Regions from separate parts of the Homo sapiens genome. Here region 1 is linked to region 2. The links come from fine-mapping of genetic effects on gene expression. A gene starts in region 2. The other region holds a variant in brackets. All regions are shown on one strand. Distances are from middle to middle. Region 1 has its middle 76 kb from the start of NETO2. Region 2 holds the start of NETO2 (neuropilin and tolloid like 2).

The links. PIP is the estimated chance that this variant, and not a neighbour inherited with it, causes the effect.
Region 1: its variant is fine-mapped to the expression of NETO2 in monocytes (Quach 2016, PIP 0.95).

What each region holds. Positions count from the first base shown.
Region 1 is chr16:47,060,379-47,076,217 of GRCh38, forward strand. No RefSeq gene overlaps it. Among named protein-coding and RNA genes, the nearest start is that of NETO2, 76 kb to the right of the region's middle. The variant C/G (reference allele first, on the strand shown) is at 9,448.
Region 2 is chr16:47,137,410-47,153,248 of GRCh38, forward strand. It overlaps NETO2 (neuropilin and tolloid like 2), which reads right to left and starts at 6,536. Exons shown (of 9, transcript NM_018092.5): 1 at 6,170-6,536. The coding sequence starts at 6,203. It overlaps ITFG1-AS1 (ITFG1 antisense RNA 1), which reads left to right and starts at 6,659. Exons shown (of 4, transcript NR_110904.1): 1 at 6,659-7,085. It also overlaps the pseudogene RPL23AP72. RefSeq lists silencers at 4,540-4,629, 4,640-4,689, 5,517-5,666, 5,837-6,676, 6,737-7,066.

The DNA of each region.
Region 1 (15,839 bases), 77 kb before region 2:
CTACTGTCTGTGCAATTTAAGGGAAGCTAACCTTGGTTTTCCAATATGTACAATGGGGATACCACCTGTCTTACAGTGGTGCTGGGAGGCTAAGTGGGATGGTATATCCAGGACTTAGCACGGAGTGAACTCTTAATAGATGCCAATTTCCTCTCTTTCTCTCTCCTGGTATTTTATTAACCAATTGGTGCTAAGCTGTTAGTGAGGTAATACGGCCATCTCCTTTCACAAAGGAATCTACATTTGGCCTCAAGGATCAATCTGAAGTCCTGGGATGGCAGGGATCAGCACTATGGTGGAGAGGCACTTAGGCTTGGAAGGTGGCCCCTATTGGGACCACAGTCTCGGTTTTCACAATGGCTGATCATGGCTGCTTCTGGCCAAAGAGGCAGGAGTTGCAATGGGGACCGCCTGCTTGTGAGCTCGCAACCTCAATTCTTCCAGGGGCAGGGTGGGTCCTACAATCTGGCAGCAATAAAACTGATCACAGGACTGAACTGAGACAGTAGGGAGTGGTGGTGCTTGTGGCAAACTGGAGAGTGCCTAACACATTCAAGCCCATCTGAAAGCAACACCACCATTACACTGGCTGAATGAGGAAGTCTGACCAGGCCAGGTGCCTCTAGTTGGAAACCCTAGAAGGGTTATTCCAGGCAGGAGTAATATTCACAATATTTACCCCCCAGAAGGCCTGGTTAAGAGACGCCAGTAACTCCCCATTTCAAGCCTCTCCACCACCTAAAACTCTGGGTAGAAGCAGGAACGAACTTTTCCCTGGGCCCCGAGGCCTGAAGCTGCCATGTTCTGCAGCCATTTAACACCCAGTCCATAAACAGTCGCCGCCTGCTGTACCCTCCCTGGGCTACTCTCTGGGCCTCCTTCCCTGAGGTCCAGCAGCTGGGAAGTGACAGCTTCCAGGCTGTGTGGGATCCTTGGCACGTGTGAGCTGCTCCCTCTACCCCTGGGAAGCCACATCCAACCCAAGCTGGCCTGGGCTGACCTCAAATCCCGGCCACCCTGCCAGAGGCGGCTTCCAGTCCTCGTTCCTGGAGCTCAATCAAGGGATCTGAATCCTTTTACTTCCGCCTCTCGAGCTCATGCCCGTTCCTGAGGGGAGGTTGGGCTTAGCAGTTGTGGCAGTAGCAGGCTGGGTGCGACCTTCTCTGAGAGTTGGCCTCCTACACCCGGGGTCACTGGTAGGACTGAAGGAGATGCGGATCTGCTTGGCACAATGAAAGTCCCGAACGTCAGGAAGGGAATCGTGCGGCTTGTAAAGCCACACGATCCACCGAGCTCTAATCATGCCACGAGGATGATCTGGCCCCTGCCCTGATCTCCTGGTGGGAAGCGTCCCTTACCCCTGATGTGCTCTGGTTTGGAAAGTGCTTCCACGTCTACACTCTATGGGATCCTGTTCACTGCCTCCAATGTAGGCAGGGCAAGAAACGTTCTATTTGTGTTGTAGGGACAAGCGGTCAAGGGGCTTACTTAAAGTCACATAGAAAGGTGAGGACAGAGTTAGGATGAGAACGCAAATCTCCTGGCTCCCTGGCTTTCCTCACTGCCTTCCACCCCTCATCCCACCTAAGCCTCCATCTCACCTCTCACAGCCCCCTGCTGGGGAATGCGGCGATAGGAATAGGCGCACTCCTCCCTATGAAACTGGTAAATGGTGGAGCTAGGAGAGGGAGCAGTGAGCATTTGAAACCCAGTAAAAGACTCGTATTTCAAGGCTCACAGAGCACTTCGTGTGTGATTCTCAAAGTACACCACCTGTGATGCAGCCCAGCCAAAAATGTGTAACTTGAATTCATTAAGTAGGGGATCCAACTAAATGACACCACATGGAAGCAACCAGAACATGGGGTGCCCTGCAAGACAAGCGGCCCAGCCTCTCCATGTTTCATCTCATAAAAGGAACACCGTGCTGGACTAAAAGACAGAGAAGGAAGGTAGCCACCAGGTGCAGTCTGTGGTACTGGATTGGACAGTGGTGTGGATGAAGTGGCTGTAATCAGGAAAGTCTGACTGTCATCTAGGTATTACATGGCAGGAACGTGTATTAAAATGGAAGGGAGACTGTGGACTGAACAAAGTGAGTTAGGAAGCTCCATGTTATCAGACAAATCCAAAAGGAGGATGTTCTGCAAAACAACTGCCTGGGCCATTCAAACATGTTAATCTCCTAAAGGATAAAAAGGCAGGGGAAATTGCCATAGACAGAGTGTTGCTGTACCCCAAATTAATATGTTGAAACCTAATCCCCACTGTAGGGTATTTGGAGGTGGGGACTTTGGTAGGTAATTAGGTCACAAGAGTGATGTCTTTATGAATGGGATTAGTGTCTGTATTAGTCTGTTTCCACACTGCTCTAAAGATAATACCTGAGACTGGGTAATTTATAAAGAAAAGAGGTTTGACTTACAGTTCCACATGGCTGGAGAGGCCTCAGGAAACTTACAATCATGGGGGAAAGCAAAGGGGAAGCAGGGCATGTCTTACATGGCAGCAGAGGAGAGAGAGCAAGCAATGGGGAAGTGCCACACTTTAAAACCATCGGCCCTCATGAGAACTCACCTGCACAGCATGGAGGAAACCACCCTCATAATCCAATCACCTCCAACCAGGTCTCTCCCTTGACACATGGGATTACAATTTGAGATGAGATTTGGGTGGGGACACAGAGCCAAACCATATCAGTGCCCTTAAACAAGAGGCCCCAGAGAGATCCTCCACCCCTTACACCATGTGAAGACATAGTGAAAAGACAGCCATCTATGAACCAGGAAGAGGGCCTCACCAGGTACTGAATCTGCTGGTGCCTTGATCTTGGACTTCCCAGCCTCTAGAACTGGGAGACATACAGTTCTGTTGTTTATGAGCCACTCAATTTATGGTATTTTTGTTATAGCAATCCAAATGGACTAAGACAGAAATGTTATAATTTAAAGGAGACTGAAGAGACGTGATGACTTAATGTAACATGTGACCCTCAATCGGATCCAGAAGATATGGAGGTGTGCCACCCAGATACCCCTGCAACGGGCTGCCTCCTACCGAGAATGTGGCCAGCAGACGGCCCCTGCTATTTGCTCTTCGGGATCTGCTTTGGCTGGAGAGCTGCCTTGCCCAAGGTCAGCCCCATGCATACTGATTCAGGAGGGGCCATCAAGGCCCTTCTGGCTCCATATAAGACAATGTGATGGGCAATTCTCACTCCAGAGCTTCCCCATCGGGTGGACTGAGGCTGTGTCAGGCCCATGTGGCAGTTCTTCCTCTGCTCAGTCCTGCTTCCTTTCCCAGGCACAGATGCCTCATGAGGCAGAGCTTGCAGTGAGCTGAGATGGCGCCACTGCACTCCAGCCTGGGCAATAAAGCCAGACTCCGTCTCAAAAACAAACAAACAAACAAACATTTTGTACCCCCAATCCATCTTGGTGTGAACTCCTGAATAACCCAACCTTTAGTGCCAACTGTAAGGGACAGGATTAGGAGGTAAGGATTAGGCAATTAAGGGACATTGAATATTAACTGTGTATTAGTTAATAATATTGTATCACTGTGAAATATGTTTTTTTTTTTGTTTTTTGTTTTGAGACTGAGTCTCGCTCTGTCACCTAGGCTGGAGTGCAGTGGTGTGATCATAGCTCACTGTTGCCTCAACATCCTGGGCTCAAGGGATTCTCCTGCCTCAGCCTCCCAATTAGCTGGGACTGCAGGTGTGCACCACCACGCCCAGCTAATTAAAAAACTTTTTCATAGAGATGAAGTCTCATTATGTTGCCGAATTTGGTCTCAAACTCCTGGGATCAAGCAATCATCCTGCCTTGGCTTCCTGAAGTGCTGGGATTACAGGTGTGGGCCACATGCCCAGCCTAAATTTCTTGGATGTGATAATTGTGTGTGGTGTAGATGGACATCCTTGTTCTCAGGAGATACATGCTGAGGTATTTAGGGGGAAGGGTCATGATATATGCAACTTAGTCTCAAATGGTTAATCTCTCTCTCTCTATATATGTATTACTCTATATGGGTCTCGCTATGTCTGGACATAGATATAGAGAAATCTATATAGACATTGGGGAGACAGACAAGACGAACGTGGCAAAATGGCACCAATTCATGAATGGGAGCCATTTTTTCAATTTATTGTAGGTTTGACATTTTCACAATGAAAGTTGAAAGGAAAAAAATCAATATGTATGGTGTGGCCTCATTTTAGTAAAAACAATACACATATATATTAATACACAGAAAAATCTGGAAGGATATAGACGAGCTATAGTGGTAGTCTCTGAGTGGTTGGAAATGTGTTATTTTTATTTGGGGATCATCAGTATTTTCCTGTTTTCTAAAATTCACATATATTGCTTTGGTAGTGAAAGATTATTAAAATAATTAATAAAGGCCTATGGTGCAGGAAAAGGTGGCCTCCTTTTGATCCAGGAGGGCAGTCTCCTGGAGCAGGGGCCGACGTCTCTGCTTCTCCCAACGAGTGAGGTGAAAATCCCAATAAAGTCACTTTCTCCATTGGCTGTTCCAGCCTCAGACCAAATTGGCACTGGCTTGATGGGTAAATCCACAGTAGGGAACAGCTGAGGTTGGCCTCCTGGTGGAAGGTGCTGGGTTAGTCCAAGGCTCAGGGCGCCCAGAGCTTGTCTATGGCCACAGTCACATGCAATTTTCAATTTCCAGTTCTGCTGGTGTGGGGAAAGTGTATGGGTATTGCTTTGAGTTATAACTATAGTTGAATTTTTTGTTTTTCCTTTTTGAGACAGAGTCTTGCTCTGTTGCCCAGGCTGGAGTGCAGTGGCGTGATCTTGGCTCACTGCCACCTCCGCCTCCTGGGTTCAAGCAATTCTCTTGCCTCAGTCTCCTGAGTGGCTGGGATTACAGGCGTGTGCCACCATGCCTGGCTAATTTTTGTATTTTTAGTAGGGATGGGGTTTCACCATGCTGTCTAGGCTAGTCTTGAACTCCTGACCTCAAGCAATCCACCCACCTTGGCCTCCCAAATTGCTGGGATTACAGGTGTGAGACACTATGCCCAGCCTATAGTTGAAATTTTTTTAACCCTTTTTTAATGCCTCTAGAAGGAAGATTTTAAAAAAATTTTTTTTTTTTTTTAATCGTTATGGTTTATGTTGCCTAGGCTGGCTTTGACCTCCTGGCTCAAGCGATCCTCCTGCCTCAGCCTCCCGAGTAGCTGGGATACAGGCATGCACCCCCCACGCCTGGCTTTTTCCATTCCTCTTGTGTGTTATTAGCCATAATCGGTTCTGATCTTTTTGTAAACTTGAAAAAAATCATTTCCCTCTTATCACATGTATTTCAGTCTGAGAAAGCTTTCTCTGCAATCCTTGGTTTACAGGGGATATTACATTCAAATACTGGTAGTGTGAACTCCAGAACTGTGGGAAACTTCAGCACTTTCTCAGTCCCCCACCCATGGCTGAGGCCCACCCTGAGGGCTCTGGTGAGCCTGGGGGTGGCACCACCCTTAAGGGAAGGGCTTAGGGAGGCCCAGAGCTGGGTCTGGGAGGGGCTCTGCCAGGGAGCCCGGAGAATCAGAACTGTCATTAAGAGCCGCAAAGGCTGGAGGAGGAGAGGGAGAAAGGAGGAGGAGTGAGACTGGTGGCAAGGAGGGGTAAAAGCCAGCCAGGGGAGGGGACAGAGGTGGGAACCTCGCTACGCTGAGCTCATGTGCCAGGCCCCCCCCACCAGTGCCGCCCCCCTCGTCTCTGCTTCTCACCCCTTTCTTTGACCCCACGCTGCTTGTTATGCCTGCCTCAGTTAGAACTCTTGTTTTTGTGGCCCATCCCTGGGAACCATCATCAATCAATCAGCAAATATTTGCTGCCCCTTTCTTAATTGCTTGGTGTTTAGAAGAAAGCTTTTTTGACAACTCAGCATGATAAGCACAGCGTGTAATTATTGGCTTCCCGGGAGCAGCTCTTGTTTCACACAGAGCATCTTTTTAGCCCTTTCATCTCTTTTGCTGGCCTAGGACATTCTGATGACAAACCTGGATGTGTCAGCATCATGTTTAAGGTGAACTTGGAGAGCATGGGGTCTTTCAGGCCTGTGTTGGCTGGGTCCCTGGGCACTGGGTCGGGTCTGGGTGGGAGAGTGCTTGCCCAGAGCAGCAGCAGGCCACACAATCCAAAGCGTGAGACACTCACCCGGATGTCTCCAGGTCCTGCACATACAACACAGCCCACTTTGAACTCATCATTTGTTCTTCAAACTATCTGGTGTTCACAGAGCCCTTCTCTGAGCACTAGACTGGTTTAGGGTCTTGCCACGTGTTCTTGCAGGCCCTTCTAATTCCTATCACTCATCAGATTTTTATTTTATTTTATTTTATTTATTATTATTTATTTACTTATTTTTAGAGATGGAGTCTCACTCTGTTGCCCAGGTTGGAGTGCAGTGCTGCAATCATGGCTCACAGCAACCTCAAACTCCTGGGCTTAAGTGATCCTTCTACCTCAGCTTCCTGAGTAGCTGGGACTACAGGCATGCACCACTGTGCCCCGCTAAATTTTTAAATTTTTAGCAGTGATAGAGGTCTCCCTATGTTGCCTAGGCTGGTCTCAAACACCTGGGCTCAAGCAATTTTCCCACCTCAGCCTCCCAAAGTGCTGGGATTACAGGCATGAGCCACCGCACCTGGTCTCTTAGTATTCTAATTGCTTAACAACCTTCTCTAAGGGCACCTAAGTTCACATGAACAGGGACCAGATCTACCTTGTTCAACACGGACCCTTTATACTTGGCAGTTGGTAATGCCCTGGCAATATTTGTGGAATGAATAACAGAATAAAAGTTCAAGCCACAGTTGAAGAAGGAAGCCAGAAATCTGTTCAGAAGGGAAGCAGCCTCACGTACAGGCCCATGGCCATAGCCAGAGAGAAAATGAGGGACAGCGAGCCACGGTCAGGTGCAGGCTGGGAGGTGACACCAGGCAACCATGGTTTGGGCCATAAACTATGGGCAGGGGAGAGCGCTGGGATGTGGTCACACAGAGAACAAACCTCATGGTGAGCTGGGCAGCCTAGAGACACACTCCCACCGATCACCAGCCAGGTGTGGCTGAGTCCAAGAGACTGAGGCTGTAGTGAGCTATAATCATGCCATGGCACTCCAGCCTGGATGACAGAGTGAGATCCACCTTTAAAAAATAAAAATAAGAAATAGAAATAAAACCCCAAAAAACTGAGTTGTGTTAGGTTGTTATTTTTATTATTTTCAGGTCAAAGAGTCTTGACTAACACAAAGGCTTTGTTCTAAAGGAGGGAAGGTGATTGTAGTTTTGTCCATTCTGTCTTGAATGAGAAGGAACATTATCCCCAAGGGCATACTGACCAAGATCAAGGGAGCCCCAATATTGTATGGCTCGGGCTCATTGATTTCTTTTCAGGGCTCTCTGCGCTGCATTCCCACTGCTGACATGAGCTGTGGCATTTTTTCCATCAAGTGGAATCTGAGTCTCTCAAGTCTTTGGAGTTATTTGAAGAAACTGAGGTCCTTTCATCTCTTCTGGTTTCCTTGGAGCTTGTTCTATTCCCTTTCATCTCCAACTCATTAAGATGGAAAGGTGTAATGGCGTCAGATCCAGGAGTCTGGATGTGCATGAAAGTACACAGGCGATTCTGAGCAACCTCAATAGTCATCTATGTTCTACTTCCTTTAGCATCACAGGCTGCTTCTCTTTTTTTAAAAAAAAAATATACCTGGGTGAGTGGGACACCAGGTATGTGCTAGAGGTACAGGAAAGGGGCTGTTTACATTTAGTCAGAGGCACAATGGGTTCCTTCTTCCTTTCTTTCAGCAAAACCTTCATTTTAGCCCACAGTTCCCAATTTGTTGTGCACCTGAGGAATGCCCCCTGCAATCTGAGTCTTACGGTTGTTAGGAAGTCTGCTCACCTCCTCCTCAGCTGGTCCCTCTCCTCCTTCAGAAAAGCGCTGGAAGCGCTGCAGGGCCTCCCTGCTTGAGTCCTTCCTGGTCAGTCAATCCAGCATTTGTTGTTTCTCATGTGCTCTTTTATTTCTTTGAGTCCCCAGTGGACGATACATTAGTTGGGGGCAAGAACAGTGTATCCCTAGATTTCCTTTAGGAACATCACAGAAGGCCAGGCAGTGATTCAGGGTTTTAATCCCAGTTACTCGGGAGGCTGAGGTGGCGGGATCTCAGAAGGCCAGGCAGTGATTCAGGGTTTTAATCCCAGCTACTCGGGAGGCTGAGGTGGCGGGATCTCTGAAGCCCAGGAGTTGGAGGTTGCAGCGAGCTATGACCGCAACACTGCACTCCAGCCTGGGCGACAGAGTGGGACCCTGTCTCTTAAAAAAAAAAGTATAGAAAAATAGGGAATGAGGGGCTCAGGGCAGTTTAATGGATGCTGGGGCATGTCAAGAGTTTTATCATCAATGTAAGGAAACTGAACTGGAAGAAACTTACGCTGCAGTATGTACTTCTAGGTTACAAAGACTGAGAGCTGTGACCCACTTTGGGTTTTCTCTTCATACAATGCATAAGAAGAAATAAAAGATGATGTTTCTCTAGTCTCTACTTAGTTTATCTTTGCTCTAATTTTTATTATTTATAATATTATTTGATAATATTTATATTTCCTTCCTTCTGCTAACTTTGGGGTTAGCTTGTTCTTCTCTTCCCAGTTTGTTTAAGTGTGAAGGTGAAGTTAGGTAGCTGGTTCAAGATCTTTTTTTTTTTTTTTAATCTTTTTAATTTTTGGAGAGGGTCTCGCTTTGTTGTCCAGGCTGGAGTACGGTGGTGTGATCTTGGCCCACTGCAACCTCTGCCTTCTGGGTTCAAGCAATTCATGTGCCTCAGCCTCCTGAGTAGCTGGGATTACAGGCATGCACCACCACGCCTGGCTAATTTTTCTATTTTTAGTAGAGACAGGGTTTCACCATGTTGGCCAGACTGGTCTTGAACTCCTGGTCTCAAGTGATCCAACTGCCTTGGCCTCCCAAAGTGGTGGGATTACAGGTGTGAGACACTGCACCCGGCCTAGAGAGCTTTATTTTTAAAATGTGTTTACTACTATAAACCTCCCTCTGAGCACTGCTTTTACTACTTCACATAAGTTTTGGGATGTTGTGTTTTCATTTTCAGTTTCTGTTTCAAGATACTTTCCAATGTCCCTTGTGATTTCTTCTTTGACCCACTGGTTAAGAGTGTTAATTTCCACATATCTGTGCATTTTCAGGTTTTCCTTCTGCTATTGATTTCTAGTTTCATTCCATTGTGGTTTAGAAAAGATATTTTGTATGATTTTAAACTTCTTAAATTTGTGAATACCTGTTCTGGGTCCTAATGTGTGTTCCAGCCTGGAGCACATCCTGTGTGCCCTTGAGAGGAACGCGTATCCTGCTGTTGGTGGTGACAAAGACTCCTTAACTAAACGTCAGATTCCTCCGG[C/G]CTTCTAGGCCTCAACCTTGGAGTCTGTCCTTGTTCAGGCCTCCGTCACCCAGCTGTAGCAGAAATCTTCATAAGTCAATGTGGAGGACCCCCATCCCCAACCTCAGTATCTAATCACCCTCGATATTGGCTCGAATTCTTCTCCCACCCCTCACCCCCAGGTAATGCCTGCCCACTCTAACCTGCCTTTGGGGAGAATCCTGTTACATCTGATGAACCAGAATCCCTCTGCACCCCTCGCATACTCTCCGTAATTTTCCACCTGCTGCCCCCACCCTGCTCCTGGCCACCGTCCCTACTTGTTCATGCTGTATTCGGAAGTGAGCCCAGTTCCACACTGAGGGCTCTTTCCCCAACAGCAACAGTTCCTGAATAAAATCTGTCTTTACTGCTTTAACTACTGTCAGGCGTGGTTTTTTTAAAATTGGGAAGAGGATGGTTTTGAATATTCACATAAATGTGCCAGTGCCCACACAGGCTCTTTTTGGGCTTATCTCTTAGCATTTGCAGATAAAAATTGTGCTACGTAACTTCACCACAAACTAGTCAACCCATCACATCTGAACAAAAAGTCAATGGCGACGTGCAGCCAATGCTCTTGGGGGTCTGTCTAGAGCTCCAGGGGGTTGGCAGGAGTTGTGGGCCCCAGGAGGATGTGAGATCAAACTGAAGCTCTTGATGGTATCTCTCTCACACTGTTGAAATGACCTTCTGGAAGAACAAGAGGCCCCTTGATTGCTTCTTGATTTGACAAAAATAAACCATATAAAAAAGATTTCAGGACAAATAATTTAAACAGACATCCCTCAAAAGAAGACATACAAATGCAACAGGCATATGAAAAACTGCCCCAAATAACGAATCATCAGATAAATGCAAATTAAAAGCACAATGAGATATAACTTCACACCTGTTAGAACGGCCATTAAAGGAAAACCCTGCACACTGTAGGTGGGCATGTAAATTAGTACAGCAATTATGGAAAACAGCACGGAGGTTTCTCCAAAAATTAAAAAAGTGGATCTACTATATGATCCAGCAGTCCCACTCTGGGTATTTTCCAGAGGAAATGAAATCAATATGTTGAAGAGATATCTGCATTCCCATGTTTACTGCATAGCACTATTCACAATAGCCAAGATACAGAATTTACCTACGTGACCATCCGTGGAGGGAAGGATAAAGAAAATGTGGTGTGTGTGTGTATATATGCATACCCACATGGGATAATAGTATCCCGTTACATATAATAGGATACTACCGAGCATTAAAAAAGAAGGAAATCGGGCTGGGTGCAGTGGCTCACACCTGTAATCCCAGCACTTGGGGAGGCTGAGGTGGGCGGATCATGAGGTCAAGAGATTGAGACCATCTTGGCCAACATGGTGAAAACCCATCTCTACTGAAAATACAAAAATTAGCTGGGCGTGGTGGCATGTGCCTGTAGTCCCAGCTACTCAGGAGGCTGAGGCAGGAGAATCGCTTGAACCTGGGAGGCAGAGGTTGCAGTGGGCTGAGATCGCACCACTACACTCCAGCCTGGTGACAGAGCGAGACTCTGTCTCAAAAAAAAAAAAAAAAGGAAATCGGCCGGGCACCCCAGTGGCTCATGCCTGTAATCCCAGCACTTTGGGAGGCTGGGGTGGGCAAGTCACCTAAGGTCAGGAGTTCGAGACTAGCCTGGGCAACATGATGAAACTTAGTCTCTACAAAAACTGCAAAAAATAGCTGGGCATGGTGGCATGTGCCTGTAATCCCAGCTACTTGGGAGGCTACGGTGGGAGGATCACTTGAGCCCGGGAGATCAAGGCTGTAGTGAGCTGTGATGGTGCCACTGCACTCCAGCCTGGGAAACACAGCAAGATCCTGTCTCAAAAAACAAACAAACAAACAAACAAACAAAATGGTTAAATTCGTTAAAAGAGAAAAAAAAAGAGAAAGAAAAACGCAGGAAAAGAAACCATAGAAAAAGAGCAGGCAAATTTTTAAAAGAACTAGGCCAGGTGCAGTGGCTCACACCTGTAATCCTAGTTTGGGAGGCCAAGGTGGGTGGATCGTTTGAGCTCAGGAGTTCGAGACCAGCCTGGGCAACATGGCAAAACTCCGTCTCTTAAAAAAAAAAAAAAAATTAAAGGGACTAAATAGGATTTCTGGAAATAAACAATATAATCATTCACATTAAGTACTCATTAAGTACTCATTGGGCAGTTACACAGAAGATGAGACGTGGCTAAGAGAAAATGTGTATCACAATGAAAATATGAAGACATGGAAATACTGAAAGTTAAGAAACATGAAAGAATTTTCCAGAATGATACTTATCTTTAGACTGAAGAAGCATATGGAATCACAAGAAAAATATAAAAATAAATACACATGTAGACATATTGTAGTGAAATGGCTAAACAATATTGTGGAATCAGTTAAGTGGGAAAAGACAGATTAAAGATATGGGAACTTAGGTTTATAAAAGAAGTCATGATCATGATCATGAAATAAGCACTGTGGGAAAGGAACAGTCAATGCAGTCTTTCATACCCAGATAAAGTATCATACAAGAAGGAGGAAACAGGGATTTTCCGAAAAGCAAAAACTGAACAGATCACCCAGCAGTGTCAATAAATAATTTTTAAAGGAAGGCAGAAGGAAAGTGATCCCAGATGTAAGGTCGGAATGCAATAAAGTATGGAGAGAAAATGAGCAGATAAACATAGAGAAAAATCTAAGTATTTACCATAAAAACAAAAACATTGGGGTGGGATAATGGACTCAGCTCTGTCTGCTTAATGCCATTGTGCAGAGAAGTACCCTAATGCATAAGCTTTTTAATGCTGTAAAATATAATAGCTGAAATTAAATGCCACTTTTTTCAGAGGTGAATTAACGGACAGTCTGGTGAAATTCACAAGCTTTTTGATGTATAAAACTTGATAAATGGAATGGGTCCATCAATAGGCAAAAGTGTAGCAATGTATCTAGATGAATAGTATGTAATTTCTGCACAGGTCTCTGTTTAGTAAATACATCACTGTATACCAATCAGGAATCTTGCTCCAATAAAGGAACATAAAGATTTAAAAAACTGGCCATTTTGGGGAAATATAAAAAACAAGTAACTAAAATACTAAATGAAAATAACATAAGATGGAAGAGGGGTGAATACGGCTCAGGCGTTGTATGGTTCTTGTTTTGTTCAGAAAGAGGGTAGAAATAGCAACTGTAGATTTGATATAGGCATGAGAAACTCTGAAGATCAGCCACAAGTGTTAGAGAAACAGCAGTTAACTTCTAACTAATACCCGCAGGGGAACGATCACCACCATGGTCAGGATCTCTGGGGGAAAGTAAAGCCAGGAGAGGACCGCAGTGGGGTGTAATTGTGTTTACAGACATAACTTCTTTAGCAGGGTCCAGGTATGTTGGTACTCATTGTTCTCCAAACCCTTTCATAAGTTTGAAATATTTCTTTAAAGTAGAATTCAACAGTTTTTAGTGTAATTTTGTTTTCTATAGCAGTGGTTCTCAACTGGGCTTGACTTTGCCCCTCTCCTTCCCTGTATCACCTTCTCAGAGGAGACTCTGGCCATGTCTGGGGACAGTTTTGCTCATCACTGCTGGGGGTGGTCTGCTGCCCCTTGCAGTGCACAGGCTGGCCCTCCCACCGCGAGGAGTTACCCAGTCCAAAACATCAGCAGTGCTGAGCTTGAGAAACCCTATCCTTTAGGATCAGAATATGTGTTTTTTCAAAAGTTAGATTTTCTCCTTTGCTATTTAAAAATAAATGGAAAAGCAGAAATAACACATGGTGACTTTGTAGCACTTTTCATGTACATAATCAGTTTCAGAAAGTAAAAATGCTTGATGAAGTCATCAGGAAAATCCCCAACTTCATAAATGGGCAGCATAATATTTTAAAGTGTTAAAAATTAATCTTTGGTTGATTGCTAAAGTAGCATGAACATAGCCACAACTATGGTGGGATGCTCTTGATTGGAGTTTCTTTATAAGATGAAGTTTCCAAGAAACAGTTAATTGCTTTCAGTTTCTCCATCTTCAAGAAAGGGACAAAAAGGTAACTGATGAAGCTGTTTCTGTTTTCTTGCTAGTGGAACATTAGTATTCGACAGTAGTACTGTACTAAATTCTGGGGCTGCTACTGAAATGTCATTAAATCCCAACTTTACACATCTGGCACGCTGCCTAAATGCAGCTCAGTGTGTTAAAGCGTAGATTACAGTCCAACAAATCAATGCTCTCGAATTGTGGGTTTATGTAAACCTGCAATTAAAAACAGTGTGCAATCACTTTCTTTGCCTACCTGATGAGGGGAAGAGAAGCAAGCTGTTTTTTTTCAGGGCAAAGAGGTGAGAATGCCAGCTTAAAACAGAAGCATTCCCCGGCGCATGCTTTAAGACATGGCTTTGGATAAAGGCAGTTTCTGGCTGGGCATAGTGGCTCGCGCCTGTAATCCCAGCACTTTGGGAGGCTGAGGCGGGTAGTTCACCTGAGGTGGGTAGTTCACCTGAGGTCAGGAGTTTGAGACCAGCCTGGGCAACATGGCAAAACCCTGTCTCTACTAAAAATGCAAAAATTAGCTGGGTGTGGTGGCACACGCCTGTAATCCCAGCTACTTGGAAGGCTGAAGCACAAGAATAGCTTGAACCCGGAAGGTGGAAGTTATAGTGAGCTGAGATTGCACCATTGCACTCCAGCCTGGGTGACAAAAGGAGACTCCATAAAAAAAAAATCTGTGAGTTATTTGTGGGTAATGGGGAAAAGCCAAGAAATGAGGCAGTGGCCAGGTGCGATGGCTCACTCCTGTGATCCCAGCACTTTGGGAGGTTGAGGCGGGTGGATTGCCTGAGGTCAGGAGTTCGAGACCAGCCTGGCCAACATGGCAAAACCCCGTCTCTAATAAAAATGAGCCGTGTGTAATGGCAGGCACCTAAATATTCCAGCTACTTAGAGGCTGAGGCAGGAGAATTGCTTGAACCAGGAGGCGGAGGTTGCAGTGAACGAGATCACGTCACTGCACTCCAGGCCGGGTGATAGAGACTCTGCCTCAAAAAAAAAAAAAAAAAAAAAAAAAATGGAGGCAGTAACAGCAGGACAGGAACAGTGTATGGCATGTGGGGAGTGCTTATTTTTAAATGATGGAGAGAACACCCACAGGGCTCCTGCGGAAAGGCAGGCCCTTCTCCCACCCCTGCAGAAGAGCAGCTCAGTGAGGTCCTTCCAGAAGCAGAGACTGCCATCTAGCAATTAAAAATGGCAGGATGGGGAACAACAGAGGCTCATTTGGTGCCTCTCTTGCAGAGTTTGGAGTACAAGGAGGTGCTTCCAAAGTAACAGGCACCATACTATTTCTAGTGGCAAAGAGCTGACTGATTCATATTAGAAAAGGACTTAGGCTAGGCCGGGCATGGTGGCTCATGCCTGTAATCCCAGCACTTTGGGAGGCCGAGGCGGGCGGATCACGAGGTCAGGAGATTGAGACCATACTGGCTAACACGGTGAAACCCCGTCTCTACTAAAAAAATACAAAAAAAATATAGCCGGGCGTGGTGGCAGGCACCTGTAGTCCCAGCTACTCGGGAGGCTGAGGCAGGAGAATGGTGTGAACCCGGGAGGCGGAGCTTGCAGTGAGCCGAGATCACACCACTGCACTCCAGCCTGGGCAACAGAGAGAATACTCCTTCTCAAAAACAAAAAACAAAAAACAGAAAAGGACTTAGGCCATAAGTATACCCACAGGGCAAAACAATGTCAGCAATAGCAGCTTCCTTCAAATTCAAAGGAAAAATTTATGCACTGATACAGTTAAAGACATAATTTTATCTTTTATAGCAGGTAGCTGTGGCTGTCAGTCAGCTATCAAAAACAATTCAGAAAGAAAAACTTTCCTGACTTGGTCTTTTAATCATTTTGGTCAAAGCAAAGCAAAAAAGAGCATTCTCTTCCAGGAAATCTTATTTATGTATATATTTTTTATCATAATAGAAAAATCTCTGTATAGAACTGCTTTGGCTACACTTCTCATCTTGAGGGTAGAATGTGTTCTGGACACAAAAGGCTTTTCTTTCTCAGTGACACACCTGCCTTTTTGTTGTGTTTTTTTGTAAATCAGTTGTCCCAAGAATCTTCTCAATGATAGAGTTGCAAATCAGCCATGCCTTCTAGGAAACCCAATGTTAATATTACATAATTGGAAATATGAAAGAATATAGAATCAGAATAAAAATTTTATCCTTTATTCATTTTTAGATAATTTCATCTTACTCAAAGGAGATTTGGTGACTTAAAAGGGACAGTATTCAAGAGTTAGAGTTTAATTGTAATCTGATTTACATTTCAAATACAGAATCATCAAATTTCAATATCTTTTGCTGTCC
Region 2 (15,839 bases):
TGAAAGCAACAGTGAGAGGTGGCCTTTTCCCTCCTTTGGTAGTGGCAGGAGACATGTTTGGACCAATATGGATTGGGCAGGGCAGGGGTGGGCGAAAAGGAGTTGAGTCGATTTTGGAAACGTTGAACTTGAGGTGAAGGCTCTACTATCTATTCTTATAAGGGCTCCAACAAATACTTCTTGTTTCTGAACATCTGCACTTGCCAGGGACCTTGGACCTCTTTGCTTCCATGAAAGTACATTTTCTAAAACCTGCTTTCTCCAGGAACCCTTTCCAGATTAATTTTACTTGACTGCATTCAGACTTTTCACTTCTGATCATTCAACAGCTCTCCATCTGTTTTTTAATTTTTTTGTTCTTATACTGATTTTGCACACTTCTATGTTAGCATTAGGTTTGGCATGAGTAACAGAAATACCTAAACTAACAGTTTAAAACAAGATAGAAATACATTGCTCTGTCATGCGAACAAGCTGGACATAGGGAGTCAAGCATCAGAGTGAAGGCTCTATAAATACCAGGACCTGGGTTCCTTCTGTCTCACTACCCAGCTGTGAGAGGCTCATTTCCAAGGTCACCCTATGGTCCAGTATGAGGCTGGAGTGCCAGCTATTCTATCTTCATTATAGCTCCCATGTCTGCATTCTAGTTATCAAGAATGATGACTTGATAAAGGGCATTCTCTCTTTCTTTAAAAACACTTGCCCAGGGCCAGGCGCGGTGACTCACGCCTGTAATCCCAGCACTTTGCGAGGCTGAGGTGGGCGGGTCATGAGGTCAGAAGTTCAAGACCAGCCTGAACAATATGGTGAAACCCCGTCTCTAATAAAAATACAAAAATTAGCCGGGCATGGTGGCACACGCCTGTAGTCCCAGCTACTGGGGAGGCTGAGGCAGGAGAATCGCTTGAACCTGGGAGGCAGAGGTTGTGGTGCGCCAAGATCGTGCCACTGCACTCCAGCCTGGGTGACAGAGCAAGACTCCATCTCAAACAAAACAAAACAAAAACACTTGCCCATAATCTACAATGATTTCAAAATAAAAGTTTAAACAACAAAAACAACAATTCCCCTAAGTTGCACACATCATTTTCTACTTATATCTAACTGGCTAGACTTAGTCACATGGTCACCTAAACCAACAGGAAACTGGTAAATAGTCTTCATTTTGGGGAACTGTGCGCTCAGTTAAATTCAGAGAATTACTGACAAATAGTTAAATGGACATTTCTAGACAACTGGAAGTTTCTGCCACAGTCCCTATAGTGTATTATGTACACAGCAGCCAGTGACCTTTTCAAAATACAAATCAGATCACATCACAGCCTTGCTTAAAATCTTCCAGTAGAGTCCCATTATAGTTAGAACAACTCTGTGCCCCTTACTCTGACTTCGGAGGTACTATGTGACCTGGAGCCTGCGTGTCTCTCTGGCCTTCCGAGCGCTCTCTACTAGAACACAGGCCGCCTTCCCATCACTCAAAACACATCAAGCTAATTCTTGCCTCAGGAACCAGCTGTGCCTTCGGCCTAGAATCTCTTTGGCTGATTCCTTCCTGTTGTTCAGGTCTTGTGAGGCTTTCCCAATTTCTAAATAAGCGCTACATTTTCTCCTTCATTTTGCTTTACTTCATTATTATATTACCTGGTATTTTGAGTCTTGTTGGTTGTCTGTCTCTTCTCACTAGAAAGAAGGGCCTTGTCTGTCTGATTCACTGATGCATCTCCACAGCCTAAAAGACTGTCTGGCCTCAACAGTATTCAATACAGACACGATGAACACATGGGGGTGACTGAGCGCGACTCCAGTGCATCTTCTTTGTAACCGCAAACACATAGCACAGTAACTGACAGGCACACATCTTGGATGAACAAACAGTAGCCACACATGTGACCTTGCTTTTTTAAATGCGAGCACAAATCAGGGGATGGGAAAAGAACTGAGATTCCCCCCCACCCTCCTGAGATACCCTGCCACCACTGTTATTTTCCTCAAGCTGGCTCAATTTACCTTTGTTAGTAATTAAGTGTGTCTCTTTCTACATCTTCCTGTGTTAAGCAACTCAGTGGTAAACATAAAGCTTTTAAAATCCAACACAGAGAACCACCTACCTGGTCTCTCTGCTCATTACCATTTCCTATAATGACAGCAGAACAGAGTTCAATTAGAGTCCACATACTATTTGACATGGCAGTCACTTGTTTTTGATAAACTATGTTCCAAAGAACAAAAAAAGTACCCAAATTTAATCAAACTCAATCATACTTTACTAGTTAAGAACAAAGATGGATGGTGAACTTTGGGATCACTCCAGCCTACATATGCTAATGACATGCCAATCACTTTAGTAAGAAAGAGTAACTCTATAGCAGAAGTGCTTTCTCTTTCCTGCAGAATGTGACAAACTCCTCCTTAGTCGAGCTGATCTGAGATGGCGCTTTTGTAAGCTGTATTTTAATTACACATCAGTCCTCCTGACTGTACAGTGACTACCATCACCTTCTAACATGATCAGGTCATATTTGAAAGACTACTTGGTATCTTCTAGTGCTGTAATTTCCAATGTTACTCCAGGCATATTTAAACCAACATGTCTTAATGTCATTTTGATTAGAAAGGACTGAACTTTCAGATTAGTATACCCTGTAATTTTGGAAGCAATATAACAAACCCGTTGAAGTGTCAGTTCTTGGAGCCACCCTGGTGTTTGAGGTGACTGAGAGGGCAAGGCCTCCCACCAATCACAGCAACTCTGTTCTGTTGTCCTTTTTCCTTTTTTTTTCAAGTGCTTCCTCACAAAAGTTCCTCTGAAGTTTGGAAACCATTGGATTAGACCACCTCTTAAGATGCTCCTTTCCAACTCAAAGATCATAATAATTTCAATCTCCAGTGCCTCAGGGAGACGTATTTCTAAGTATAAATAATTATTCTACAGGAGCGTAAGTTGAAAAATGATAGGAGATTGTGCTGGATGGGTGGTACCCCAAGAGAAGGAGGTAGTCTATTGTTTTAAAATTTCAGATATGAACTTTATTTCTAGTCTATCATTTTTCTATCTTTTCTAAAAAGGACTGAAAATGGCTTTGATTTCAACTTGTTTTGTCATGCAGGGTTTTTCCTAAATAGTGATTTTAATTTCAAAATGAAAGATAAACCAGATTGCAGTTGAGGATTTACTACAAAAAAACCATTATTTAATAAGACTTTTCAATTGACAGTGTTAAAACAGTTTTTCCCAACCCCTGGAAGGAAAAGCCAAAAAGTTGATTTTTAATAAGGCTTTAGTATTAAAGGACAAGTTTTTCAGTACCACACTTATTTCTGTATAACTAGTTTATAGTCCTGGGTGAAATGTAAGAATGAAAAACGAGTTAATACTTGCACCGTCTCAGACAAGATTTTTAAATACAGTGCCAAGGAATATTTTTGCTGTTACATTACAAATTTAACCAGTTTCTACAGCTTGAAATATTGCTGAGTCGAACAGATTCTCCTGAAGCAAGTGTGCAGAATAAGAACAAAAAATGGATTTATAATCCTCATGTAATATTTTCATGAGACTATAATGCTTAGTTAACCTTGACAGAAGATTAACTCGAATTCTGTGAGGCCTAGAGTGATCACAGCTAAAAGTGAATTTTTTAGTTTCAACAACATAGGAAAGGTTTAAAAGCCTAGTAAGGTTATTCTTTTGTCTTAATGGCTGAAAGTAAAACAAGAATAATCAGTGGCATCTTAAAGAACTAAAATTACTTTCTACTTAAAATCTCACACACTCATTATGGCTGATTTATTTTAGTAGAAACTGACCATAATATTTCAAACAAGGCTTCTGTGGGTAATATCCACAATTATGTAAATGTTAAATAGCTGCTTCAGATAAGAACCTCTTTGATGTTAAAGCAATTCACTTTATAGGATAAAAGGAAAACTTCTTCATGCCTTGGGGCACACAATGAGTAGTTTGTAATGGGAAAGGCCAGTATCTTTTTAAAGGCAACTTTTTAAAATTAAAATATTGATTTTTAAATAAATTATACATGCGTTTGGTAAAAAAAAAAAACAAAAACAAAATCAAGTGATACAAATGGGTGTGCAGTGAAACCAGTCTTCCCTTCATTCCTGTCTTTTAATCCCCTAGATTTCCGTATTAGAATCAACTACTGTTAACAATTTATTGAATCTTTCCAGACCAGTTATTGGCATTTACAAGTTGATACCACAGACGACTTTAAAAATAACTTGCTTTCTCTCTAGGAAGCCGCCACCAATAGCAGCAACAACAATAATAATTCAGCTTGAGCTTTAAAAATACTCCAGCATGTAAAAATAGTGTAGGCTAACACTGAAAAAAGAAAAGCCAGACACTATATTGTTTTCACCGTAGCTCTGCCATCACCAGAATCCTTTCCTGAAAGGTACAACACTCAACGCTTCACCACGATGGCCAGAGAGGGCAGTGTGCACCCACGGGAAAGGCAAAGGCAGAAACGCTGCAAATCCCTTCACCATTGGAGGAGGCGCTACCAGCCCCTACCCTATCCAGCTCGATTTTATCAAGTTCTGCAGGTAAAGCGGTGTGACAGATCTACGCGATTTCATCCGGGGGTGCTCTCGGATGCACGGTCAGTAGCATGCTGACAACCTTACCGTAGTGAGGGCGCAATCCGACAACGGCAGAAAATTCAGATAAGCAACACGATCAGAAATCCTAGTGTGCATACGGTTTATCACGAAAGAGTAAAAACATTCCTTTCCCAGGAATGACTGTAAAAATTAGGAGTTAGAGATATGAAAGCCACAGGATGAATTTCAGAGTTGTTTTCAATTGTAATAAAGAAATCACTACGGATTTACGGTTTGTGAAATATTCATCAGCTAGAAAGTCCTAGGTTACCTTAGTACAAGCTGTAGATACGTTTACAGTGGGGTAGTTAAACGTTTCGAATTACTGAAATCTCAATTACGAATTTAGGAATATGTGGAGAGTAGACAATGTGTCCAATTAAAATCAAAAGCAAAATTACACTGAACTTTCTAATAAAACAAATTTGAAAAAAGTGCTGTTAGGGAGCAGGAAAAAAGTCACTCTACAAATATTAAGATACAGTGCTGAGTTATACATAACACCGTTAATAATGCCTCAGCCGTACCCTCGAAATTTTTAAAAAAAGAACATGTTACGACATTACAAACACGTCAGCTTTCAATTTAAATCAGCAGGGGGAAAAAGGGAAGTCCTTTACTGAGTGGTGGTGCTGTTTTCCCTCTGGAAATTGAAAAGACGATTTATTCAGTCCGAGTTTCAGGAGCAACTTTGTATCCCAATCCTAATTATCTATGTATATAAATTTTCATCTAAATTACCACCTCCTGGGAAATGCAAAGCCGGTGGAGTAGGTTTTAGAGCTCTGTGCTCTGGACAAGCCAACTGTTTTAATTCCCAGTACAACAAATTAGTAAGAACCGAACACCAGCGGCGGGGAATTCTGAGACCTCTGGCGGAGCGCGAGGAGCGCCGCGTCCCGGGAAGCACCCGAGCAGCAGCGCTCCCCGGGGGCCGGGACAAGCCGGGTCCGCGGCGCCCGCGCGCCGCCCCCGGAGCCCGCAGTGGTGCCGCAGCCTCCGTGGCCGCAGCAGGTGGGACCCGGCTGGCCCAGCAGGCCCCGTTCCCCGCCGCGAGGTGCAGGCGCCGCGGGGCTATTCGAAAACCACTGCACGACGTCACGGCCGCGGCTTTTATTGTTCTCGTGGAATTACTTTTTGCCATCACATCTGGAGAAAGAGCGGCCTCCGCTCCACGACAGGAATCTCACAACTTTGCAAAGGGATGCGCGGAATTCTACGGAAGCGGCGCGAGGGCGCAGCCCGGAGGGCCCTGCTGGGCCCAGGGGCCTCCTGGCCGCCTTCCCGACCCGATCCCTCTTCCCACACGCGCCCCGCGAACGTCGGCCGGACTCGCAGGGGTCGGAAGCGGCGCGCCCGGAGAGCCGGCGGAGCCGGGCAGGGCTCGCGCCCCGCGGTCCGCTCCGAGTAGCCGCGAGCCCCGCCAGACAAAGAGGCGCGTCGGGTCCCGGGCGCGGGTAAGGGACGCAGAGGCGCGGGCAGGGCGGCGCGCCAGCCTCGGCCCGCAGGGGGCGCCGTCCGTGGCCCCAGCCCCGGTCCTTACCTTTGAGGACCGAGCAGAGCCGCTCCAGGGCCATGTTCCCGAGCTGCCCGGCGCTTCGCGAAGGGCTGAGGTAGCGGCGGCGGTGGCTCGGCGCTCACGGCTCGGCGCGGCGGCGACGGCCCCACTCCGTCCCCATCGCCGGCCAGCAGCTGCCTCCCCGCTCCCCTGAGGAGAGCTCAGGTCCTGCGGCCCGCCATGCCCGAGCCCCACAGTGGGCTCCCGCGCGGCCCGAGCACCCCGACGGGCGCCGCCTCCTGCTCCGCGGCGCCCCGTCCCATCGACCGCCCGAGGGCCGAGGAGTGCGGACGCGCGGCGCGGGACCGGCAGGCAGCTCCGCCCGCGGCCCCGGCGCGGGATCCACTGAAGTGGCGGGCGCGGGGCGCCCAGGCTCATTTAAGGAGGGAGCGCGAGCGCCGCGTGCCGGCTGCGCCGCCTGTGCGCATGTGCCCGCCCCGCCCCGCCCCGCGCCGCGCCTCGCGCGCCCGCCGCGGCCTCGCGCCGTGGGACGGCGTCGCTCCCCGCCGGCTGCCGTTAGGGCTGGGAGCCGGCTGGGCGCGGGGGTAGTGAGGGTGCCTCTCGCCGTGGCTGCGCGGCGGCCTCGTCCGAGAGGCCGGCGCCGGGGCAGTGACCGGCCCGTGCCCAGCCGCCGCGCAGGGCGCCCGGGGCAGCTGGCCGAGCCCTCGATGCCTCCCGTCTGACGGAGGCGCCCGGGAAGCGCCGCCCACCTCGGCCCCGCACCCTCGCCGGCCTGCCGGGTCTCCGCCAGCCCTAGCAGACAGAGAGGGGCGCCGGTCCCTAGTCCCCCAGACCTCCATTCAAGGTCAAAACTTTGCCCAGCTCAGCCTTGCTCGACCCTGGGCAGGGAAGCGCGGACATCGGCAGAGGGAGCCCGAGGCTCTCCGTGCCCTTCGCGCCGGTGAGTTCCCGACCCGCGGCGCTGCCGGCGTTTCCCTAGCGCCCGCCAGGTTGACAGGCACTTTAGTACCAACTCCTCAGACTCCCCCTCATGAAGTAGGTTTTAGGGGATTGGAAAGTCGAGGCCAGAGAGGTGAAGCCCTTCGTCCAGAGCCGCGTAGCGAATGAGCGGCAGGGCTGTGCACCTCCCCCGGGGCTGCCCTCCTAGCAGCTAACCACTACGCTGGGCAGCTTCGCCAGCTGATGGGAGTCTCCAGGTCTGCCAACAACTGCCTGGCTGTTGGTGGTATTCATGATCCTGCTTTATTTTCTCCACAGCGGTTATCACACTGATATGACCTTCCTCATTTATTTATTTGTTCATCCTTTATATCTCCCTCACCCTCACACCATTAAAATATCAGCTGCTTGCAGGCAGGCCGACTGCATTCATTTTTTTCACTCCACACATACGTATTGGGTGTTAATTATGTGCAGAAGACAATGATTGGTGCTGGAGATAACAACCGTGATCAAGGCCTTACCATAATAGAATATTTATGCCTGTCTCTGCGTGTAGTAGGAACTCTGTAAACGTTTGTCTAACCAATTGTAGCTAAAGACAATGTCAGGCAACTGAAACATTTTTCAGGTGTTAAGCTCTTCTCTCTCACTTTGTATTCCTTCAAGAAAGGTACAAAAGCATAAATAATTCATGAGATTTACAAAGGAAAAACATACTTAACACCAATTAATATCGAGGTGTTTCACCCTTTGCCATGTGCTGTGAATGGGGGCATAAAAGATGGGTAAGTTTGGGTTCCTAAAGGTAACCACCTACTACAGTTAAGATCGCACACGAGAACCAATTAGGAAATAAAACATTTAAGAACTTTTTCCCACGGATATGAAAAGGTGGCTCACGCATGTAATCCCAGAACTTTGGGAGGCTGAGGCAGGCGGGTCACCCGAGGTCAGAGGTTTAAGACCAGCCTGGCCGACATGGTGAAACCCCATCTCTACTAAAAATACAAAAATTAGCTGGGCGTGGTGGCACGCGCCTGTAGTCCCAGCTACTAGGGAGGCTGAGGCAGGAGAATCGCTTGAACTGCACTCCAGCTTGGGCAACAGCGAGACTCCGTCTCAAATAATAATAATGATGTAGCATATTAGTAGAATAGGAGAGTAAGAAGACAATATTAAGTATAGGTTACAGACAACAGTGAACCAAAAAAATTTGAGAGGAAGGGGCTCTCAAATTAACATAATAGTTTCTTAATGTGAAGTTGTTGACTGAAGGAAAAATCTGCGTGTCATGTCATCAGAGAAGACTTCCTGAAGGAGGTGACACACAAACCATGGAAATGCTTGGGGTGGCGAGAGGAGAGGAGGCAGAAGAAGAGCTCAGCAGGCAGGGAGCAGGATGAGCCTGGAACGTGGGGCAAGTGTTGTGTTTGGTATAAAGAGGTTGGACATGGTGGGCTTTGATTATGGAGATAGGTGCTCAAATGCTAGTTAGGTAAATGATTACTTTTAATAGTGCAGTAATGGAGTTCTGGGAAGATTTCATCTGGCAGTTGAGGTTGTAATAAAAGGGGAGAGATTAGAGCAACCACAAGAATTCCAAAAGTAGATCTGTAATACTTCTACGTTTACTTTAGAAGCTCTTACTTGTATTATTTTGATTAAACCTAAAAAATCTTTTTTCCTCTAGAATGTTGGCTTGGGAGTAGATTCCAATTGGGAATGTTCATTTTGTGGCTCCCTTTTAAGACACCTATCTTTTTTAGATGTGCTGGTGGAATCGTCTGCAGTCGATTTTTCGAGGAATGTAGGAAAGCACAGATCATAGCTGAGACTACTGTGTGGCCATATGTTAGCCAAATCAAAAGGGAAGCGTTTTCATATCTCTCACTTGGGTTCTGTATTTGAATTATTATTTTCCTGGAAGATCACCCAGTAGCACCCAGTCTGTTCCCAGATTACCTGGCAGTTTCCAGGTGACTGAGGGCTCGGCTTTCCTTGCATCCTGCCAGTCTCCCAGGCATCCATTCAGGCTCTCCAACTCCTCACAATCATTCCTATAGTTTGAACTGGGTTTTCTCTGACCAAGTCCCATGTAGTACTTGAATGGTATTGCATGGCATTTACTTGTTACTAGAATGAACCTTGTTTTTTTTTTTGAGACGGAGTCTCACTCTGTCACCCAGGCTGGAGTGCAATGGCTCACTGCAACCTCCGCCTCCCAGGTTCAAGCGATTCTCCTGCCTCAGCCTCCCTTGTAGCTGGGATTACAGGCGCCTGCCATTATGCCCGGCTAATTTTTTTTTTTTGTATTTTTAGTAGAAACGGGGTTTCACCATGTTGGTCAGGCTGATCTCGAACTCCCGACCTCAGGTAATCTGCCTGCCTCGGCCTCCCAAAGTGCTGGGATTACAGGTGTGAGCCACCACGCCCGGCTGAATGAACCATTTTTTAAAAGGAAGCATTTTATTGTCAATATTTATACACTTAACAGATTTTTGTTGTGTCTCTGTTTTGCTATTGTTTGGGAGTGTTAACATTTTATTACATGACAGCCGAGGAAAGCAGGTTGTTGCGTTTGGAGATTGTTACTTACTGTCTGTGTCCCCTCCTAGTTCATATGTTGAAGCCCTAACGTACAGTGTGGCTGTATTTGAAGAGGAGGGCCTTGAGGGAAGTAATTAAGGTTAAATGAGGCCGTATGGGTGGGTCCCTGATCTGAAAGAAATAGTGTCCTGATGGGAAGAGATATCAGAGAGCCTGCTGTCTCTTCATGCACAGGCACCAGGAAAGGCCATGTGAGGACACAGCAAGAAGGCAGTCATCTGCAAGCCAGGAAGAGCATCCTCATCAGAAACTGAATTGGCTCCTGCCTTGATCTGAGACTTTAGCCTCCAGAACTGTGAGGAAGTATGTCTGTTGTTTCAGCTACCCAGTCTATGGTATTTTGTTGTGGCAGGCTGAACCAGCTAATACAGAGATTATAACTAAGGAAGGTAGAGGAATTTAAAAAGAACCAAACTTTTATGTGCAGAAACTATTTGTAGTAAAATATAATATGGATCTTTACAGGGTGCAAATATGGCTACAGCAATGGTGACATTTAGTGAAAAACAATCAGGTGGGTTCTCAGTATATGAAGATTTCAGTGTTTATTACACAACTGTAGGGTTTTTTTTAGGGAAGGAAGAGAGGAAAATTGTAATTTTTAAAAAGTGCATTCTGTTAGTCTGCTCAGGCTGCCATGGCAGAATTACAGTGTAGCTATAGACTGGGTGGCTTATAGTGTAGAAATGTATTTTCTCACAGTTCTGGAGGCTGGTTTCTGCTGAGGCCTCTCTCCTGGCTTGCGGACCGTTACCTTCTCACTGTGTCTTCAGCGGCCTTTTACTCTTTCTGTGTGCACCCCTGGTCTCTTCCTCTTCTAATAAGGACACCAGTCCTATTGGATTAGGGTCCAACCCTTCTGACCTCATTTAACCTTAACTATTTCCTTAAAGGCCCTGTCTCCAAAAAGTTATATAGAGGGATAGGGCTTCGACATGTGAATTTGCGGGAAACACAATTCAGCCCATAAAATGCAAGAGCCACAATCATTCCTGTGTTATTGATATTGAAGAAGAGCTGTCAGGGGGTCAAAGAATTCTTTCAGTAACACTGTCCCCTAAACTTCTAAATTTCTGGTTAGCATAATTTTAAAGAACGCTTTTAAGAAATATTGCTTCCTATTAATATAAAATATTTCATCTTTACCAGGAAAATTTCAAATTGTCAAGAAAATTTCTGGTCATTAGTTACTTTCCTTTGATTGTGAAAAACTAAGAAATGCCCTAATTTTAGTCATGTGCTGCATAATGACCTTTTGGTGGATGATGGACCACATACACAACTGTATAAGCTTATAATACCATATTTTTACTGTGCCTTTTCTATGTTTAGATATCATTAGATATACAAATACTTACCATTGTGTGTAGGAAGTAATTGCCTACACTATTCAGTACAGTCACTTGCTGTACAGGTTTGTAGCATAGGAATAATACGATAAACTGTAGAGCCTAGGTGTGTAATAGGCTACACCATCTAGGTTTGTGTAAGGACACTCTATGAAGTTTGCACAATGATGCATTTCTTAGAATGTATGTCTGTCATTAAGTGACATATGACTGTGTATTTCTTAGAATAAAGTTACTAACATATATGGTATCTTTTTTTTTTCTTTAAAACCAAAATCCCATGTTGAAAAGAGATATGTTTGCTTAAACCTATTTACTTTCTAACCTGGTGTTCTTTCATTGAAATCAACACCCCCTCCTCCAAAAAAAAAAACCTATTTACTAAAAGCTGAAACAAATGCTAGTTTATTGGTGTAGTATGAAACCATAAGTGTAAATTCTTGATGCAGTTATTTGGTAATGTTTGTTAAATAATAAAAATTGTTAAAAGGCCTTTCATATTCCTCTGCTCTGTGGTGTTACCTCCTTCCTGAATCAGACTTCCATGTGTATGAGTCTTTCTCTGCACTCTCTAATATGTTCCATTGGTCTGTCTATCTCTTCACCAATACCGCACTCTGTTAATCACCCTAACTTTTTCTTTCTTGAGACAGAGTTTCGCTCTTGTTGTCCAGGCTGGAGTGCAATGGCATGATTGGGTCACTGCAACCTCTGCCTCTTGGGTTCAAGCAATTCTCCTGCCTCAAGCCTCCCGAGTAGCTGGGATTACAGGCTTGTGCCATGACGCCCGGCTAATTTTTGTATTGTTAGTGGAGACAGGGTTTCACCATGTTGGCCAGGCTGGTCTCGAACTCAGATGATCCACCCGCCTCGGCCTCCCAAAGTGCTGGGATTACAGGCGTGAGCCACCATGCCTGGCCTAATCACCCTAACTTTATTATTTTGTTACCTGGTAGAGCAGGTCCTTATTCTTTTTCAAGATTGTCTTGGCTGTTCTTGGTCTCTTATATTTCCGTGTACATTTTAGAAACCTCTTAGCAAGCTCGGCAACACAACACCCCGTTGGGATGAGTGGAATTGGGAGGGCTTTGACATCTTTACAATTTTGAGTCTTCCTGTCCATTAACATGGTTACAGATGTGCATTTATTGAAAATTTCCTTAGCGTTTCTCAGAGAAGTTTTATAATTTACCAGACAGAGATGTATGCTACATCTTGTGTTATACTAATTCCCAGGTACTTGACTTTTTCGATGCTGTTATAAATGTTACCTGTTTTTAAATCCCATTTTCTAATTGTTCATGCTGGCGTATAAAAATGCAATTGATTTTAGAAAGTGCCAAACTGTTCTCTAGAGTGGCTTTCCTATTTTGCATCCCCACCAGCAATATATGAAAATTCTAGTTTTTCCTCATCCACATTAGCACTTTGAATTGTCAGTATTCTTTGTTTTATCCATGAAAGCACTTTTTATTCATGATAGATGTGTATTGGTATCTCTTCATAGTTTTAGTATTCATTTCCCTAATGGCATATCCGGTTGAACATCTTTTCATATGCTTGTTTGCTACCTATATATCCTCTTCAGTGAAGTATCCTCAAATTATTGCCCACTCAAATTGTTTTTTATTTTTACTGGTGAAAAGATGTCCATTTAGAATTAGCCAGCTGGACTCAGTTTAGATGATTCCAATTTTGTTGGCAACATCCAAAGCATCATAAGCAGGAGCCAGTCAAACACACGCCTTCTCTCCATTGGGCCTGATTGATCAGGCTACATCAGTGTTGCAGAGCTTCCCCACATCCTGTTTGCTCTGGTGCTTGTTGGCTTTGCCATCCACGGTGACCTCAAGTGTGTTGTTATCTTCTGTCTTCTTCATGGCACACTCAATGCTCAGGGAATCGGGCAGAGTGATGAAGCTTGTTTCTCCTGGGGGCACTCTTCTGAGGATATCTGGGTTGTCTCTAGAGCTGTAGTGTTTTGGGGTGCTGGAAGGTGGGTGAAGTGCAGATACTCCTTTTTGTGTGTGGCTGTGGATGCTTTCCAGCACTGCCTTCTTGGCCTTCAAAGCTTTTGCTTTGGTTTCAGCTTTGGGAGAGGCAGGAGCTTCCTTAGGTGTCATCTTGTCTGAGTTTTTGTATTGTTGAGTTTTGAGAGTTCTTTATAGATTCAGGATACAAGTCTGTTGTTGGATATGTGATTTGAAAATATTTTCTTGGCCGGGCATGGTGGCTTATGCCTATAATCCCAGCACTTTAGGAGGCTGAAGCGGGTGGATCACTTGAGGTCAGCAGTTCGAGACCAACCTGACCAACATGGTGAAACCCCATCTTTACTAAAAACACAAAAATTAGCCAGGCATGGTGTCACACACCTGTAGTCCCAGCTACTTGGGAGGCTGAGGCAGGACAATTGCTTGAACCTGGGAGGCAGAGGCTGCAGTGAGCCGAGATCACACCACTGCACTCCAGCCTGGGTGACAGAGCAAGACTCCATCTCAAAAAAAAAATTTTTTTTTCTTTGCATATATAGCTTGTCCATTCTCTTGGAAGTGTCTTTGTCAAAGCAAACATTTTTAATTTAGATGAAGTCACATTTATCAGTTTTTAAAAAGAATCATAACTTTGGTGTCATTTCTAAGAACTCTGCTTACCCCTAGCCTATGAAGACATTCTATGTGTTCTTTTAAAGTTTTATAGTTTTACATTTTATATTTGAATTTATGACCCACTTTGAGTTAATTTTTGTGTAAGGTGTGAGGTTTAGATCAAGGTTCTTTTTTTCTCCTTTGCCCTTTGTATTTATGGCAAATACAGATGATCAATTGTTCTGACACTATTTGTTGAAAAGACTGTCTTCCACTTAGTAACTTTTACATCTTTGTCAAACATCAAATGTCTATATTTGTGTGAGTTTATTCCTGGACTCAATTTTATTCCATTGGTCTATGTGTCTCTCTTTGCCAATACCACACTATCTTTATTACTCAAGCTTTATAATAAGTTTTAAAGTCACATAGTTTGATTTCTTCAACTTTGTCTTCTTTTTCAACATTGTTTTAAACTAGTCTAGTTTATTTTCTCTTTCATATAAGTTGCACAAAATCCTGTCCATGTCCACAAAAAGATACTGCTGGGATTTTGATAGGGATGGTGTGAAATGTACAGATCACTTTGGGGAGTACTGGCATCTCCTAATCCATGAACACACTGTCTTTCCATTGAAGTCTTCCTTGGTTTCTTTCATCACCTTTCTTCTTTGTTAATATGTGCATTTAGTGTTATAAATACCACCCCCCAGCACTGCCTCCTACAAATTTTGTTACATTGTATTTTTCATTTGGCTCAAAATATTTTAAAATTTCCTTTTGAGACTTCCTCTTTGACCCTATGGTTATTTAAAATATCTGGGTATTTTCCATGGATCTCCCTAGTTCAATTCTATTATAGTCTGATAATCTACTTTGTATGATTTCTATTCTTTTAGATTTGGTAGGACTTGTTTTATGGCCCAGAATATGGTCTATCTTGGTAAGTGTTCCATGTGCTCTGAAAAAGACTATTTTGCTGCTGTTGGTTAGAGTGTTATATAAATAGCCACTAGGTTAGATTGACTGAGTGCTTTTCAGGTCAGCTCTAAGCTTTCTGATTTCCTGCCTACTTTTTCCTTCAGTTACTGTAGAAAAGTGTTGATGTCTCCCACTTAAATCGTGAGTTTGTCTGTTTCTCCTTACAGGTCTGGCGGTTTTTACTTTTTAGTTTATGAACACTTAGGATTTTTATGTTAAGAAGAGGGGCCTGATCTTGGGTGAGTCTGCTCTCCAGATGAGGCTGGCAGATGAACAGTGATGACACTCCCAGAAATTAGGATAATAAGTCCTTTATTCTTGATGCCGGATCTGGACACTACACCACAGCATCCACTAGAAGGAATATTTAGGGTTTTGTTTCTTTTTGAGTATGTTTTGGTGATATTTTCCTAGGAATTGGTCCATTTTGTATAAACTTTCAGATACACTGGTGTTGGGAACAGGCCCTCCAAAATCTGGCCATCTACTGGCCCCAAAACTGGCCATAAACAAAATCTCTGCAGCACTGTGACGTGTTCATGATGGCCATAACGCCCACACTGGAAGGTTGCGGGTTTACCAGAATGTGGGCAAGAAACAACTGGCCCACTCAGGGCGGAAAACCGCTTAAAGGCCTTCTTAAACCACAAACAATAGCATGAGCGATCGGTGCCTTAAGGACATGTTCCTGCTGCAGATAACTAGCCAAACCATCCCTTTGTTTCCCATAAGTGATACTTTTAGTTAATCCCGTTTCCCATAAGGGATACTTTTAGTTAATCCAGTATCTATAGAAACAATGCTAATGACTGGCTTGCTGTTAATAAATACGTGGGTAAATCTCTGTTGGGGCTCTCAGCTCTGAAGGCTGTGAGACCCGATTTCCCACTTCACACCTCTATACTTCTGTGTGTCTTTAATTCCTCTAGTGCCGCTGGGTTAGGATCTCCCCGACTGAGCTGGTCTCGGCACATTGGTATAAAGTTATTCTCAAAATCTTCCTAGTTTTAATAAATAGATTATCTGTAGTTATACCCTTTTCATTTTTGATACTGGTTATTTGTACCAGTTTTCCTTTTCTTGTTAGAGGCCTTTGGGGCAGCCTGTGCCCTATAACTGATGAATGTGGGAATGTAAAGGCCCAGCCTTCATATTCTAACTTGGGACAGGTTAGGAGATAGGAAAGGTCATCCTATCTCAGAACTCGATGTAGGGTTGTATGAGGCA